Linked DNA regions of Homo sapiens. The protein of the gene in region 1 interacts with the protein of each later gene in a biochemical or structural test. Each region holds a gene or a part of one and is shown on either strand. Other genes may lie near its edges. The genes, in order: TBXT, NFIA and NFIB.

Region 1 (3,600 bases):
TTAAAATTAAGTACAATCCATTTGCAAAAGCTTTCCTTGATGCAAAGGAAAGGTGAGAGAATTCTAACTATAAATACCCTTGGGCAAAGAAGTATGCAGAAAGATGAAATATTGCTGCACATACTCTTTTCTGAATTTCCTTATTTTTGAAAATTCGATATACTTTTTTTTTTTCATTTTGATAGAAGTGATCACAAAGAGATGATGGAGGAACCCGGAGACAGCCAGCAACCTGGGTACTCCCAATGTACGGTTTGTTGCACTCTGTCATGTCATTCTGCGTCATCGGGACTAGACTTGCTGAGAGCTGGGAAGTGGAGATGGAGAAGACAAGGGTGTTTCTGGGTGTGCCTGGGATGTAAGATTGCCTTTTTGCCATGCGAGGCTCTTGGCCCTGTGATGTTGAAGCTGTGTTGCCCATCTAACCTCTGCTCTAATCGGGGCTGTGGATACTCTCCTGGGTGCTTTTGTTTTGCCGTGAGGCAGCTGCCACCATGCCTGGGGTGGATCATTGAGACCTAGCTGGGTGTTTGGACTCTCCTGTATTAGGTAGGCAACAGGAGAATCTAGCTCATTACCTCCTCTTTGAGGCTTTCATTAATGGTTGAAGAGCCATCTTTCCAATGATGCTTAGGAACCAAATTTTTCCTTAGCCCTTTGGTTCTAGGAATGTCTCACCAGCTCCTGTGGCTCTGAGGATGAGAGAGTTGGATTTAAGTCTAGCTCCCTCTAGGACTTTCAGGAGTCAGAGTGCAGGATAGAGGATTATACGGCAGCATTTGTTGGGAGAAACGCTCTCTCTCATCCTGGTCCGTCCTCTCCACCCGGGGAAGGGACTTGGAGATATTAAACAATGAACGCGGTAGCACTGGCTGGTCAAGAGGCTGGATGAATCAACAGGGCACACTCCTCCTTACACAGGCATTTTCTATTCTGTAGATTTTTCATCATTTCCTAGGCTGATTGAACAACCAGAAAGGCAGTCACTTGAGTAGAGTGAGCCACTGCTCTGGCCAGGGCCGGCTGGGCAGCCAGGGCACGTCTGCACCCTTCCTTCCAGTGCTGCCTGGAGAATTGTTAGTAGTTTGGAAATTGAAGCCACAGTAGTTGTCCCGCTAGGGGTTGCTTTTTCTCAATCAAAACAACAAAGCTTGAAGAGTGTAGAAGAGGACGGGCACGGTGGCTCACGCCTGTAATCCCAACACTTTGGGAGGCCAAGTTGGATGGATCATTTGAGATCAGGGAGTTAGAGACCAGCCTGGCCAATATGGTGAAACCTCATCTCTACTAAAAATACAAAAATTGTCAGGCATGATGGTGGGCGCCTGTAATCCCAGCTACTTGGGAGGCTGAGGCATGAGAATCCCTTGAACCTGAGAGGCGGAGATTGCAATAAGCCAAGATCACACCACTGCACTCCAGCCTGGGTGACAGAATGAAACTCCCAGTCTCAGAGGAGAAAAAAATGAGTGGACAAGAAATTGTAGTTTTAGAGGAAGGAAGGGGAGTCTTGGAAGAACTTTCTGATTCTCCTGGGGAGAATGGGGGGAGCTTAAACCAGGAGAGTGAGCAGTAAAAGGGTCTACCCCCAGCTAGGAAGGCACCTCCCGTCTCTGTGGGTGGCAGGAGGAGAAGGGGAGGGCACCCTTGTCTAAGCACCACCCCACCTCTCTCAGCATCTCTCACCTGCTCTCTGCCTGTGGTTACATTGTATTCATGCTCAGTGGAGGAAAGCTCACCTGCCTTGGGGAATAGTAGATCTCAAAGCAATCCAGAGGATTCTCAGGAGGAAACAGCTTAGGTTGCCTGAGGCCAGGCTCCTGGGTTTACTCAGGTACACACAGGATTGGAAGCCTTGGGTTACCTGTGGTAGTGAGTGTGGGGCTGATGGCCTCAGATGTCTTGTGAGGCAGACTGTGTCCTAAGTATGAGACACTCAGGGTGCTTCCCCCATCAGGGGCCCCTGAGGGGAAGGTGGGAAGTCACTGGCCTGGGCTCTGCTCTCTGGAGTGATGGAGGGACAGTCCCTGGCCTGGGCTCTGCTCTCTGGAGTGATGGAGGGAGAGTCCCTGGCCTGGGCTCTGCTCTCTGGAGTGATGGAGGGAGAGTCCCTGGCCTGGGCTCTGCTCTCTGGAGTGATGGAGGGACAGTCCCTGGCCTGGGCTCTGCTCTCTGGAGAGATGGAGGGAGCACTAATGCAGGTTACTCAGCACTGTCTTTTCTCACAGCAGGGGGGTGGCTTCTTCCTGGAACCAGCACCCTGTGTCCACCTGCAAATCCTCATCCTCAGTTTGGAGGTGCCCTCTCCCTCCCCTCCACGCACAGCTGTGACAGGTACCCAACCCTGAGGAGCCACCGGTCCTCACCCTACCCCAGCCCCTATGCTCATCGGAACAATTCTCCAAGTGAGTCCTCAGCCTCATTCTGCCAGGGGTTGGTGGGTGGCTGCAAGACCACTTTGGGAAAGGCATTCTGCAGGAGTCTAGAATCTAAAAAAATGGAGACGGTTTTCTGGAACACATACCCAAGCCCAGTTTTTTAGTAGCTCAAGAGAAGATCTTCAATTTATGTCTCCGCCACTGCCGCTGCTGGCGGAACAACCACGGACACCCAGATCAGAGGCTTGCATCCTTGCACAGGCCTCAGAGCTGCTGCTCCAGGTTTTGAAAATGACAGATTCCTGGGCCTCTCCACAGAACCATGGTCGATCCTTAGGAGGAGAGCCCAGGTTTGAGTCTTCTATGAACCTCTCTAAAGTGACAATGATGGGCAGCCAGGCTCAAGAATTCCTGACTACACCAGTGATTCTCCAAATACGGTGCCCAGGCCAGAGCCTCAGCACCACCCGAGAGTGGGCACAGTCTCAGGCCCCACCCCAGACTGACAGGCAGCAGCTCTTGGTGGGGCCCGGCAATGTGTGCTTTTTTTTGAGACGGAGTCTCGCTCTGTCGCCCAGGCTGGAGTGCAGTCGCACGATCTCGGCTCACTGCAAGCTCCGCCTCTCGGGTTCACGCCATTCTCCTGCCTCAGCCTCCCAAGGAGCTGGGACTACAGGTGCCTGCCACCAGGCCTGGCTAATTTTTTTGTATTTTTAGTAGAGACGGGGTTTCACCGTGTTAGCCAGGATGGTCTCGATCTTCTGACCTCGTGATCCACCCGCCTCGGCCTCCCAAAGTGCTGGGATTACAGGCGTGAGCCACCACGCCTGGCCAGTGTGCTTTTAAAAGCCTTCCAGGCCATTCCGATGCATGCTCCAATATTAGGAACACTGGGATAGACCATAAAGATCCCCTGGCCTAATTCTCTCTATAACACTGTATATGTCTAGACTTAATTTTGTCTGGCTCCAAAAGAAGGAAAATAGCTAAAGAATACCATAAAACAATTAAGCAATTAAAGCTGATTTGAAATGAAAGGACCTTATTGGGTTAGGAAGTCACTGGGACTTGTTCAACCAGAGGCTAGACTCTGAGGCAGGAAGATCTTATTTCTAATTTTGCCTGGAGTAATGGTTTCTATCGCCCATTCTTATGAAGTAATCACTGGTAAAAAGGCAGGGTAAAGTTATATTTATTTTTAAAGATAAGTAATTCCAAGTCA
Region 2 (3,823 bases), on another chromosome or scaffold:
ACCTCTCCATCAATTACTGAAAGAGCTGGTTTGTTTCCCTTAGCTATCTGAGACAACACTAAGAATTCCTAAATACAAAGCTACTAAGTCTGCGTATTAATGTGATTATTTTTCCTTCCTAAATGATCAGCAATTTGATAGTAATCTACCTCCAACTTCTTAATTGGCAAGGGGTTCAAGAGGCCTCAGTAGGTTAAAAACACTCCCAGCAGAAAACCAACTAAAAATATTGCCTCAATACCAAAATAAATGCTTTTAAACTAGATCATTTGTCAGTTAAAATATACTCTTTATTAAAAGGGTTTTCACGAGGCTTCTCTCATCCCCTCATCAAAAAATGTGATTTAAACATATCACATATCTGATTACCAACGCCTCTGAAAACACTACTTACCAAAAGAGCTGAACTTAGTGAGAATTCGCTCAAAGCTATGCTTTTTCACCTGAATGAAGGTGGCACCTCTCTCAATCTTTGAAACCACACTGGCTTCATGTACGTGGCCTGCAACTTGGGGAGCTCAGGAAGAATCCGGCATAACGCGGAGGCCATCAGGAAAGAAACACACACAAGAAAGTGGGAGGAATTCTCACCATCGCACTTACCTGCTGCATGCACAAAGTATGCCAAATATAAATCGAGTTCCTTAACAGAAACCCCTATGTGATGGGGTTGGACACAGAGCCCTGGATTAGAGCATTGTGGGGACTTTACAAGGCGCTCGCCATCAGTACTTTCCAGCGGAATACCTTTAAACAAAATCACCATAACAAGGTCCAACCTCCAGACTTTATCTGCCTGGCGGAGGCAGTCAATTCTTCGCATCTTGCCTTTCTGGTCTGGGTTGGAAAGAACACAACATGGAGGTTTTTTCCCTGTAACTGTAAGAACAAAATCCTCTCGATATTCGGGTCGGATATCTTTCCGCAACTTTGCCAGAAGTCGAGATGCCCACTTCTGCTTGACCTCTGGTTTTTCACTTAGCAATTCATCCTTCACGGCTCTCTCTTCTTCTTTTGACATACGCTTTTCATGTTTTTTGAAGTATTTTCGTTTTCGGGCCTGCAGGTTGAACCATGTGTAGGCAAAGGCTCGGACGTGGGGCAGAAGTGCTTCGATGAAAGGATGAAATTCATCCTAGGAAAATGAACAAAAAGAAAAATATAAGTAGAATGAAAACAAAAGAAAACAACTTTTCTTCAGCGGGTCACCTTAAGAAAGAAATTCCTCATTTCACTTGAAATTTGATTAGAGCATTCTGTTACCAAAATCATACACAGGATCCTATGGGAAGTCTGGGAAGGTGGGAGAGAAAACTATCAGTATCATTTCTTATGATCGGAAATAAAAAAACTGCTGAAAATTAAAAAACTGTTTTAATATGTTCACCAGGGTACACCAGCTACTACTGTCGGGCCTAGCTCCCCATCCTTTAGATAGTAAGTGAAGTTTATCTAAATGCTTATAACAATGTATAATCTTAACCCTATTTCAAGGAAGGCATATCTAATTTTGTCCCAGCCTTGACCTCACCACTTGTAGTACAGCCAGGGCCCAGCCGCCAGATTGGCAAATCCTAAACATTTAGATGCCAGTCAATGTTTATGGAAGTCTAGGAGCAAAAAATCATCTCTACAATCAATGAAAACAAAGGCTTTCCCCCTAAAAATATTGCATGTAGATTCTGATATGTTTCTTACTCATTTTGCTAGTGTCTAAATTCCCCTTTTAAATATTATAACTACATATAATTTTTTTAGTCAAAAACTAGGACAAATTTGGGAGGTTCATATACAAAAGAAGGATTGAATTTGATATTTATTAGGCTAAAATAAAAGATCTATGCCCAAGACATAATTGCTAATACTATGGGAATGAAACAAAAAGGGGGAAGAAAGAGGAAAAAAAAACAAAGAAAAGCATACATGAATACATTTAATTTACTAATATGATTGTGAAGTGCTTTCAGTAATAATCATACCTAAAAAATAGATTATTTAATTTTTGCAAATACTATTTCAGGATTTTTCTCATAGGGAATCAGAACCTGGTATTTTCAATATTTACAAGATGCCGGGAAAACCCTCATAGATGCCTCTTAAAATTGAAAAAAAAATTGAGTTTCAAATATTTAAATGTTTCTTTCTGTTTTGCTTAAAATGTTTGATCCTTATACATGACATTTTCTTAGGAAATATAAATATATTTTTTAAAAAATTAAGCAGTAACCTCCACAAAGCTTTCGGAGTACGTCTAACTTTTGATTAACTAATCCACACTGTTACATAACTTCTCTCTGCCACATAACCCCCTCTCCAAAACATAGATTACCTTCAAATAAATGAGGATTAGAAACCAAAGAAAGATTCGATGGCTTTTTTGCTAAATGGTGTAGGACAGACAAATATTATAAAATGCATTCTTTTTCAGTTTGTTATATCTAACTAAATATATACTTTCAAGGCACAGGTAGCAGTAATGTCCAGAATATTATTATTAACACAATTACTAAATTTTTAAATGTTCAAATGTGAACTGATAAGGTAAAATATTTAATAGTCGTGTTGTTTAAAAATTTAGCAAATTATAATCAATCATTTAAACACTCTATATGACTGAGCTTTTAAAAGTAAGTATATATTAATACATAATAAATTACTTCAATAACTGACTTTTTTCCTCTCTGCACAAATTTCAGGTTCTATGTTTCAAGTTTAGCTTTCAAAACTGCTCTTTTTCAATAAAAGAATCCAAAAGAGAAGTAGTCAGCTTTTGTAACACGTGTGCATTCTTTAAGTAGAGAGAGAATAGAAAAAAATACAGGAATTGTTATTCTTGCCATAAACCATTAACATTTTTAAAATTTCTGATGTTTGAGAATATTTCTTATTCTCATACTTTAGGTGACAGGCATGGGGGGCAAGTCACAGTTTATCTGCAAAGGTATACGCCAAACCACAAAGCATCTAAACGTTACTAAATTCTGAGCTCATCCTTGAAATGATCTAAAATACATAAATTTTAGGTTTGAAACAGAACTTCACATTGACTGATTTTCTTATATATACAAGACATGCTAGGGACCAAGACTCTGTTGTATTATGCAAAAAACTCCTGGAGTCTACCTTAAACTACCAAGTGAGCTTTCACCAAAAGGAGGACTTCATTTTAAAGTTTCATCCCCATTTTATAATGCAAAGTATAACTTAGCTCCAAACGATTCATATCTATGTTAAAATGTTATCTTATTTAAAAGTTTGATTAATGATAATAAGCATTTAAAATAAACATTCTAATATGGCATTTTAAGTGTCTGTAGATACTCCCAATATGCTTTTCAAAAAACTGCAAACTGCATGCATGCATTCGTGTCCAACAGGATTCTGTTTACCTGCCAACCAAATGCCCATATATCTCATCATAAAAATCCTTAAACAAGAACAACTATGTCAATTAGTCATTAAGAATAACTTAAGTCCCCAATTTTGCATCAAAAGTATTTACAATGTATTACTCCCCAAAGGTTAAGAACCTGCCAGTAAAAGTCCACAATATTTTGTATAACTTTACTCATATGCACAATTAAAGTATTGATTTTTTCTAATGTATCTTTCTCAAGTCATGATTTAAAATATTCCAGAATATCAAAACTAAAGAGTATCATTAGCTTGCAAGAAATGTCCAGGAATAGCATAAATGATTAGTTAAAAAAAAAAAGTAGTGTGCCCTTATAATTCATGTTGCTGAACATATCGCTATAAGCTAGGTACTATTTCATAACATTCAAGAGGAAAAAAAGAACGTTTTACATATGTACTCAGTGAG
Region 3 (3,823 bases), on another chromosome or scaffold:
GTAAACTTGGCAAGCTCGCCTCATTAAGAGCGCTCTTTGAAAACGGACTGTGTTTGAGCATTTCCCTAATGAGGACAGGACGGGGTTAAAAAGTGACCATTTCATGGTTGACTTGAACCTGCCTACTTTTCTTGATGTGTCGTTGTGAAATGCTTGATGTGGATAACTCCCACTTGGTGAAGGAAAAAGTCACTGGTTCCTCCAGGTCCGCTGGGGGAGGGAAGAGGGGACGGTGGACAGAAACCAGAGGGAGTGAGAGGGGCTAAAGTTGAGGGGACAGATCACGAGCTGGGAAGCGGTGGAAAGAGGACCGGGGAATCGGGGGCGAGCCTCGAAACGCCCCAGCAGTACCCGTGGAAGCGGGGCGGCCCCGCCCTGGGGATGGGCCCGCGAGGACCCGGTAGCCCCAGCGCCCCCCGGATCCCCCAGCTAGGTAGACTCGGAGCCCCAGGCGCTCACTTTTCCTCCCTCCATTGTCTGGGAGGCCTTTGCTTCCCCCTCGTCCCCATCCACCCCAAGCAGAAAACTGGATTTGGGGGGCGGTGTGTGTATGTGGGCGGGGGGTGCAGAAAGGGTGCAAGGCGAACCGCCTTCTTCAAAATCCCTGGAATCAAGTTCATTCACTCGGAGCCTGCACGGGCGACGGGGTGGGGGCGGGGCAGCGCCGCGGTGGGGAGCCGGCGCGGGCGCCGAGCGGCTCAGGGCCCGCAGCCTCTGGAGGGCTGCAGCGGCGCGCGCGCGCCCGCCGGCCCGCCCCGCAGCCCCGGGCGCGCCGCGGCCCCGCCCCGCCTGCACCCGGGCGGGTAGGGAGACGCTTTCCGCCGGCGCCCCGGGCCCCGGGGGGTGGGGATTGGGAGCCAGCCAGCGGGGCTGCAGGAGGAGGAGGAGGAGAGCGAAGCCGGGCGCGGGGAGGAGGTGGAGGGAGCAAGAGGCGGCGGCGGCGGCTCGGCCCGGTCCTCCCGCTCAGAGCGAGGCCACGTGCACGGGGCACCCCCGGGGAGGGCGGCAAACCGCGGCGAAGCGCCGCGCGCCGCGACTGCCTCGGGTGCGGGCCCCTGGTGGGCAGACCCGGGACGAACCCGCACCCCCTCCCTATCCGCGAACCCGGGCTCCGGGCGGGGCCGTCGGGGGCTGGGCGCCGCACCCCCCTGGTCCACGCCGGCGCGCCCCAACTACTTGAGCCCAAGTTCGCTCAGGTCCCCGCCTGCTCGGCCTCCCCCTTTTCCCGGCAGCCGCAGGCTCCGCGGACTGAGCCCGCCCCGGGTGCGAGTGTCCGCGCCCCAGCCCCGGCCTGGGGGCGGCCTGGGTGTGAGGGAATTTTCCACTCGTTCCTTTCTCGGGCTCAGACGGTTTCGGTGCTTCTCCCACTCGGATGTTCCCGCGGCTTAAAAGAGTCCGCAGCGAGCACCGAAATACCTCTTCCAGGGCGGGTTTTCGGGGGTGTGTATGTGTGTGCTGGTGTGGGGAGGGCAGCGGAAAGAAGAGCTATTTTGGAAAAAAAAAAAAAGTCATGGTTCTGTAGCACCGGTAGGATACCTTTAACAAATGAGGGAGAGGTGGGGGGAGAGAAGGAGAAGGAGGAGGAGGAGGAAGGTGGGGGGGCGGGGGGTGTGGAGAGGCTGGTGCAAAAGGAATGCGCGTTTGCAGGAGGAGGAGTAAAGCGATGATTGTGTAATTAAATAATAAAACAATCCTTAAGTCTGATTTGGAGAGAGCTCGAGCGGGGTCCAGAGGGTGGAACCGGTGAATTTTTCAACTTCCAAGTTTTGCAACGAAAGAAAGCAAGAGAGGGAGGGAAAAAAAAGAGCCTAGAGCAGAAAAGAGAGGAGTTTGGAGCCGAGCGGGAGAGCGGGATTTATCGTTTGGAATTTTTCAGGAGATCGTTTTGATACCCCTGGGCTCTGGGCAGCGGCGGCAACAGCAGCCTCCACGCTCGGCCGGGTCAGACGCGGGGCGAGGCGGGCGGGCGGGCGGCCGGGCGCCGAAGACCCGGCGCGGGCGGCGGCGGCTGCTGCTGCCGGGGACCACGCGCCGCGAGCCTCTTCCGCCCCAGAGATCAGCGCTCGCGCCCCCTCCCTCACCCCGGCCTCTCCCTTCTCCCCCATCCCACCCCGCCCCCACCCCGGCCCTCTCCCGCGCGCGCCCCGCCACCCGCGCGCACTCGCTCACGCTGCCCCTCGCGCACACACATGGTCGGCTCGCGGCAAAGTTTCGCCTGCGATCACCACTCCGGGATCCTGCCGCAGTGCTTGGGGCTGTAACCTTGAACTTTCCCAGCGCGGTGACACATTCTCCCCGCTCTCCCTCCCGCCCGCCCGCTCGCCCTCCTGCGCCCTCCCGCGCCCCCCTCCCCGCCTTTTTTGAAAAAGCATTTTACCACCAACCACCACCCCAATCCAACCCACACCGAACCTTCGCGCACCCCCTACACCCCAACAACAACAACAACTGCAAAATAGAAAACAAATCCCCAAACCCAGGCGAAAAGCAGCCAACACCGGCGGCGGCGGCGGCCTCGGCAAGCACGGCCAGCGCGCTCGGACTGCAAGAGGGTTAAAAGTGTAGATTGGATTTCACCCCTGGAAATCTAGCACGCCGAGTGAACTTGAATCTTTGGCTATTTAAGGAGGACTGGGTTTGTTGTGAAGTTGCGGTGATCCAGCGCAGAGCCCCGTCCTGATTGATCGCATCGCGGGGCTCAGATGACTGTAAAATGAATAGATGAAATTCTTGCTTCTCGAAGATTTTCTTGGGCATCTCCCGGAAAGTGCGTTTTAAGGCGAAGTCATGATGTATTCTCCCATCTGTCTCACTCAGGTACATGTCTCGGTCGCTTTCTCGAGCTTTCTCTCTGGCCCGAAATGCCTTTGTTTTGTTTTGTTGCGGACAATTAGCGGCTTGAGTTAACCTCCGCACATCCCCGTCCCTTGGAGAAGTGGCCCGGAGTTGCAGCGGGCGTCGCGGGGCGGCGTGGGAGCCGGGAGCGGCCCCTCGCCACGGCCACTGCGAGCGCCCAGCCCCGCGCCCTGGGCACGGAGCGCGGGCGCTGGGCCGGGCAAGGCCGCCGGGGGGTGGGCAGGGCCGGGACCTGTAAGTGCGAGGCCCCGTGCGGCCCCTCAAGTGCCCGTTGTGGTGCGGCATCCCCGCCCGGGGTGCCCGTAGCCCCTCTCAGCAGCTCGCGCGTTGAGGTGGACTCGGGCTTTGGAGGACTTTACGGGGGACTAAGCTTTTAAAAACAGCCAGTGAACTTGGGCGAGGGGACTGTAGCACGAGTCTGTGTGGGCGCCGCTGGACTGCGCTGCAGGCGGTGGGCGGGCGACGAATCGAGTCGGAGGTTGTGGTCCGGGGACCCATTCCTTTGCTTTATTTGGGGATCTGAAACCCTGGTCCATAGTGACCTGCTGCACTTTGGGGTTTCTAGTGACCGCACCACAAAGGCAGTATTTACGTTGACACGAGTTAGTTGGTCTTGGTGATTGTTAAGGAGTTTTTAGAACGTGTTCCTTTTGTGGAAACCTGTTCATTTGACGATATTTGGGCGTAGCTCGTAAGGCATTTTAAGTAATGCTGGTAGAAGTAAGGTCATTTTTTTCGACTTTGAGAATTGTCCTAAGACCTTAGGAATAATGTTATGAAATAAAACACTGGTTTTATACTTTTTAGAAACACGATTTGTATCACTTTAAGCCAGACGGTCAAATAGAAAAGCGGCGAGACCCAACAGACTTACCTGGGGGCAGTTTTCATCGCTGCCCAGGGAACTAACAACTGACAAAGTAACTAAAATATCTTAGCCCAGAACTGTTATTTGAGGCAGTATTTT

The links.
Region 2: the proteins of TBXT (region 1) and NFIA form a complex in vitro, tested with the Homo sapiens proteins (one study listed by BioGRID).
Region 3: the proteins of TBXT (region 1) and NFIB form a complex in vitro, tested with the Homo sapiens proteins (one study listed by BioGRID).

What each region holds. Positions count from the first base shown.
Region 1 is NC_000006.12:166,161,252-166,164,851, reverse strand, and holds part of TBXT (T-box transcription factor T), read left to right. Parts: coding exon 1-52; intron 53-185; coding exon 186-247; intron 248-2,228; coding exon 2,229-2,405; intron 2,406-3,600. UniProt on the Homo sapiens protein: Involved in the transcriptional regulation of genes required for mesoderm formation and differentiation. Binds to a palindromic T site 5'-TTCACACCTAGGTGTGAA-3' DNA sequence and activates gene transcription when bound to such a site.
Region 2 is NC_000001.11:61,085,461-61,089,283, reverse strand, and holds part of NFIA (nuclear factor 1 A-type), read right to left. Parts: intron 1,136-3,823; coding exon 604-1,135; intron 1-603.
Region 3 is NC_000009.12:14,312,476-14,316,298, reverse strand, and holds the start of NFIB (nuclear factor 1 B-type), read left to right. Parts: upstream 1-2,157; 5' UTR 2,158-2,787; coding exon 2,788-2,817; intron 2,818-3,823.